2 separate regions of the Homo sapiens genome follow, and region 2 is linked to region 1. Evidence: fine-mapped expression QTL. A gene starts in region 1. The other region holds a variant in brackets. All regions are shown on one strand. Distances are between the middles of the regions.

Region 1 (2,752 bases):
CGAGGCTTTCAGCTTCGAAGGCTGTGAGACCCCTGATTTCCCACTCCACACCCTATATTTCTGTGTGTGTTTCTTTAATTCCTCTAGCGCCGCTGGGTTAGGGTCTCCACGACCGAGCTGGTCCCGCAGTGGGCAGTGGTTTGGGCCCGACCGAGCTGGTCCCGCAGTGGGCGGTGGTTTGGGCCCGACCGAGCTGGTCCCGCAGTGGGCGGTGGTTTGGGCCCGACCGAGCTGGTCTCGCAGTGGGCGGTGGTTTGGGCCCGACCGAGCTGGTCTCGCAGTGGTTTGGGCCCTGCTTGCTCGACTGGATTTCAACAGTGAAGCCAGATTAGAGGACATGCTGGCTGCCCCGATCCTGGACCTGGACCAATGGTGCTTCCTAAACATTCCATGTCAACTTTTCTTTTTCCACCTTCCAGGGCTGGGCTGTGAAAGAGATTGGAGAGGCAGGTGCCTGTGAGAGAAGCTTCTACCAGCCTGGGAAGTCAGGTCTTCCATGAGTGAGGGGAGGTATCTACTTTGCCAAACCTTGTTAGGGAATGCTGACATAGCTGCCTCTTCCTGCCCAGAAGCTAAGCTTGAATGCCACCCCTCACAGAGCTTCTCTCCTGTCTTTCACTCACTCCTGCTTATTTCTGTGACAGAACTTGACAGCATGGACATTGCCACTTGCTTCCTTCAGTCTCCTGGAGTCCCCATGTCCTGAACACAGAGGAGGCACCCAAATGCTTGCTGAAGCCACATCCCTGGACCAAGTGACCTGACCCTCACCTGGAGGACCTTCACCTTCACCTCTCACCTGGAGGACCCTCTCACCTGGAAGACTCTCTCACCTGGAGGACCACCCCACCTGAAGGACTCCCAACTGGAGGACCCTCTTACCTGGGGGACCCCCTCCGCTGGAGGACCCTCTCACCTGGAGGACCCTCTTACCTGGAGGGCCCTTCACCTGGGGGACTCCCCCACCTAGAGGATCCTCTTACCTGGAGGTCCCCTCACCTGGGGAACCCCCCCCCCACCTAGAGGATCCTCTTACCTGGAGGGCCCTTCACCTGGGGAACCCCCCCCCCCCACCTAGAGGATCCTCTTACCTGGAGGACCCCCCACCGAGAGGACCCTCCCCCCCCACCTGGAGGACCTCCCCACATGAAGGACTCCCACCTGGAGGACCTTCTTACCTGGGGGAACCCGTCTCACCTGGAAGACCTTCACCTGGGTAATCGCCGTGGCCTCCCACTACGGCGCAGCCGGGTCGGCTGCCCGGGCTTCACCCTAAAATAAGGCCCGAACTGCAGCAGTCGGAGCCGATCCCTGGAGCCCAGCGCCTAGGGCGGACCCGCGGGAGCGTCTCTTGGTAACCGTTGCTAAGGAGAGGAAGCCCGGGAAGGAGCTTTCGCGCCTGCGCCGCGGGGCCGTCCGCGTCTGCGCCTGCGCGCAAGAGAGGCGGGGCCAGCGCTCGGCATGGCGGAGCCAGATCTGGAGTGCGAGCAGATCCGTCTGAAGTGTATTCGTAAGGAGGGCTTCTTCACGGTGCCTCCGGAACACAGGGTGCGCGGGGTGCCACCCGGGCAGCTCTGCCCGCCTCGCTAGCGGCACTGCCCGGCTGGGTCTGGGGAGCCTCGTGTCGCGCTGCCGCGCCGAGGCTTCCGGCACGGGCGGGAACGACAGTCCCAGAGTTCCCCGCGGCGGGGGCGGAAGCCGGGGCGGGGCGGGCTCAGGACCCCCGACAGCCGGTCCCTGGAGATCTGAGGGGCCGGGGCGGGCTCAGGGATGCCTCGCGCCCGCGGAGAGACGGGCCCGGGACTTGGGAAGAGCAAGCTCCGGGATCCAGCTCGGGCGCTGCTGGGTTCAGCGCCCGAGCTGGGCTTTGCAGGCTGAGCCGCGAGCCACTTGTTTGTGGGGAGAATTTACACCCGCGACGAGTTCGAGCTTGAAGGCTCCCGCTGGGCTTGGGCTGCATGGAGCGGGGTCCAGCGCTGCCTGGCGGCTTCACGCGAACCCTGGGCGCGTCCCTTGCGGAGGTGCCGGTGCCTCCCTCTGCAGAGACCAGGAGAGAGCCTCTGGGCGTTGGGCGGTGTTGCCCAGGTGCACGGCTGGTGGGGGTGGAGAGCCCTGAACTTTGGCCGCTGGTTTGTGTTTTTAACTGCTGGCTGGTGCTCTGAGAGGCCAAGCCACGTGTTCAGTAAGAATCATTAACAGATCGTGGCTGGATGACAACAGGAGCCACACTTTACTCATCCAGACGTGCAGCAGGCGCTCACCGCGTTGAGAGCCGTGTGCTGGACTCTGGGGTGAAGTAGTGAGTTGGCCTTTTCTTTTTTGTTGTTTTTTTGAGACAGGGTCTAGCGCTCTCGCCCAGGCTGGAATGCAGTGGCGTGATCACGGCTCAGTGCATCGTCAGCCTCCTGGGCTCAAGTGATCTTCCTGCCTCGGCCTCCCAAGTGCTGGAATTACAGGCGTGAGCCACCGCCCCCAGCCTGGCCTGGCATTTCTTTGAGTTCAGGAAGTGTGACAAGGATTTGGACACCCAGAAATAAGCGTGTCGAGAAGAGCACAAGCAGAGGATGTGAGAAGGGGAATTAAGGCGGGAAAGGGAGTTTGAGACTAGGCCATCAGTGAGTGACAGGCCAGATGCTTCTGACTCGGTCCCCAGGTGTCAGGAAGGAATCAGACTGAGGACAAATGCGGCCAGTGGCTCACACCTGTAATCTCAGCAATCTGGGAGGCTGAGGTGGGAGGATTGCTTGAGCCC
Region 2 (3,006 bases), 270 kb after region 1:
TAGGAGGACCCTGCCAGCCTCTGGCTCTCTCTCAGGCGGTGGTCTCTCTCTCGGCCTCAGGGGCTGAGGTAGAAGGGCACGAGACAGGCAGGGTGGAAGACGGGCCCTCACCCCACTGCGGGAGGTTTCCCTATTAGCCTAGACCCTCCTGTTGCAAGGAACAGAAACTCAACCCTGAGTAGCTTAAGCCAAAAAGAAAAATGTATTTGCTTGGTGACTGGAAGATCCTCCAGTGTCAGGAATCTTGCTCTCTTCCAACTCGACTTCCTGTGTCTGATCCAGCCTCAGGCAGGCCTTCCCTGTGCGGTGGCAGAGACGGTCCCGGCAACCACATCTTGCTTTCCAGGAGCTGAGCCTCCCTGTGCAGATGACAGCTGCCTTTTCACAGTGGTTATAGCAGGAACCTCAGGCCTGACTTTCATTGGCCAGTCCTGACCGGATGACAGTGGCTGACTGGCCAGTTCTGGGTCATGTGCCCACCCCTGACCCAATGACAGTGGCCGATTGGCTAGTTCTGGGCTGTGTGCCCGCCCACTGACCCAATGACGGTGGCCGATTGGCTAGTTCTGGGCTGTGTGCCCACCCACTGAAGCAAGCGGGTGGGCTAAGTAAGTTCCTCCCTGAGTGAGCCACATGGACAAGGACGGGTGGTGTCTTGAAGGTGACAACAAAAGAAGGTGGTGGGTCCCAGGCCACAGATGTTCCTGATGCAGTCCTTGGGTCTGTGTGTGCTTTGGCCTGGCTGCCCTGTGTCCCCTGTGCTGATTCAGGTATCCCTGGGAATGTAGAAAGTAGAATATTCATGAGGAAACAGGTAAATTGGTGGTAAGAAAAAAAAACCCCAAAACATAGTGGCTTAGAGAAGATGTGTTCGTTTCCTCACGTAAAAATCCCATAGGTGGTCTGGGGCCTCTATGACAGCTAATGGTGTTGGGGAGGGCCTCCTTTTCCATTGCCCTGCACCTAACCGGCAAAAAGCAGGAGGGGCAGAGAGGCCGGGTCGCTCCCGCTCACATGCCCATGGCCCGGTGCAATCCCACACAGCCCCTCGCTGCAAGGGATGCTGGGAAAGGTCGCAAGGGATGCTGGGAAAGGTAGCATGTGACCTTGGCGGTCCTTGTCCAGCTGATCATTGTTTACTGTGAAAGGGAGAAAAGGGACATGGCATTGTGCTGAAACTCACAATCTCTGCCCTAAATGGTGCCTGGAAGAAATAAGTTGAGGGGCTTGTGCGAAGGGA[A/G]AGGAACTTCAGCCCAGCTCACCTGTGACCCCCTCCCTGACTCACCCTCTGCAGGACCCCAATGAGGATGAGCCAAACATCCGAGTGCTCCTTGAGCACCGCTTTTACAAGGAGAAGAGCAAGAGCGTCAAGCAGACCTGTGACAAGTGTAACACCATCATCTGGGGGCTCATTCAGACCTGGTACACCTGCACAGGTGGGCCGAGACCCAGACGAGGAGTGAGGAATGAGAGAGACCAAAGTTCCTGCCTCCGCTGGGCTCACATTCAGATGTGAGCTATCCAGTGTGGTGGCCACTAGCCAAACATGGCCAGTCAAAGTTAAATTAACTAAATATGCATTTCCTCGTTGTACTGTCTACATTGGACAGGGCTGTTCTGGATGAGAAATTAAACTAGTGAATTACATGGTGTGTCTAGTTTGTACAATGAAGAAAAAGGGAAAGGACCTAGCACGTGTTAGGGTGGAGTGAATGTGACTTTAGGGCAGAATGTAAAGGCATCACGTGACTTTGTTTTTTGTTTTTGTTTGTTTTTGGTTTGGTTTTGTTTTTGAGACGGAGTCTCACTCAATCGCCCAGGCTGGAGTGCAGTGGTGCAATCTCAGCTCACTGCAAGCTCCACCTCCCGGGTTCACACCGTTCTCCTGCCTCAGCCTCCTGAGTAGCTGGGACTACAGGTGCCCGCCACCACGCCCGGCTAATTTTTTGTATTTTTTTTAGTAGAGACGGGGTTTCACCGTGTTAGCCAGGATGGTCTCTATCTCCTGATCTTGTGTTCCGTCCACCTCGGCCTCCCAAAGTGCTGGGATTACAGGCGTGAGCCACCACGCCCAGCCGGCGTCACGTGACTTTTAAGCAAAAACTTGAAGGTCAGGGAGCAAGCCAAGACAATATGTCTGGAGGAATGTTCTGGTGGGGGCAGCCCTGTGGTTGATGTGTCCAGTGCCTTAAGGAGGAGCAGAGAGCCAGGTGTGGCTGCAGCTTTGTGTCTGGAGGACTGTTCCGGTGGGGACAGTGCTGTGGTTGATATAAGGAGGAGCAGAGAGCCAGGTGTGGCTGCAGCTCTGTGTCTGGAGGAATGTTCCGGTGGGGGCAGCCCTGTGGTTGATATAAGGAGGAGCAGAGAGCCAGGTGGGGCTGCAGTTCTGTTTCTGGGGGAGGTGGGCTCAGAGGTGGCTGGGGCTTTTCTTTAAGTGCAGTGGGGGCCACAAGTGGGTGCTGGACATACTTGAGCTTTAATAGGTTACTGTGGCTGCTGACTGAGCTTGGACTGAGAGGGAGGTGACTGAGAAGAGGGGGATGACTCTGATTGGGCTGGGGTAGGTGGTGGGAGTGAGGAGTCGCTAAGGGCAGTCCAGCTGAAGGTTTGGAAACGGAATGTAACAGATTAGAAAATAGTCTGACTGAGTGCGGTGGCTCACGCCTGTAATCCTAGGGTTTTCCAGTGCAAAGATGGGAGGATCGCTTGGGCCCTGGAGTCTGAGGCTGCAGTGAGCTCTGATTGCACGACTACACTCCAGCCTGGGCAAAAGAGCAAGACCCTGTCTCTTAAAAAGTACAAAAACAACAACAACAAAAACAGAGAGAGAGAAACCCTTCAGGATAACTCATGATATTGAAAGGGTGGAGCTGCTGAAACCGAGATGGGGAAGCTGAGGGGCTTGGGGTCGGGGGTGGGAGTTTCGTTTGTTACATTTGGACAGGTTGGGTCTGGTGGTGGGAGTGGCAGGTTGGCCCCAAACATGTGAGTCAAGTTGGAGGACAA

Evidence for each region. PIP is the estimated chance that this variant, and not a neighbour inherited with it, causes the effect.
Region 2: its variant is fine-mapped to the expression of CDK10 in whole blood (INTERVAL, PIP above 0.99).

What each region holds. Positions count from the first base shown.
Region 1 is chr16:89,685,250-89,688,001 of GRCh38, forward strand. It overlaps CDK10 (cyclin dependent kinase 10), which reads left to right and starts at 1,440. Exons shown (of 13, transcript NM_052988.5): 1 at 1,440-1,548. The coding sequence starts at 1,462. LINC02166 (long intergenic non-protein coding RNA 2166) reads right to left here and starts at 1,663. Exons shown (of 3, transcript NR_184152.1): 1 at 1,198-1,663; 2 at 1-426. RefSeq lists a silencer at 1,625-1,874.
Region 2 is chr16:89,957,720-89,960,725 of GRCh38, forward strand. DEF8 (differentially expressed in FDCP 8 homolog) reads left to right here. Exons shown (of 13, transcript NM_001242818.2): 6 at 1,295-1,436. Among named protein-coding and RNA genes, the nearest start is that of SNORA119, 5.8 kb to the left of the region's middle. The variant A/G (reference allele first, on the strand shown) is at 1,241.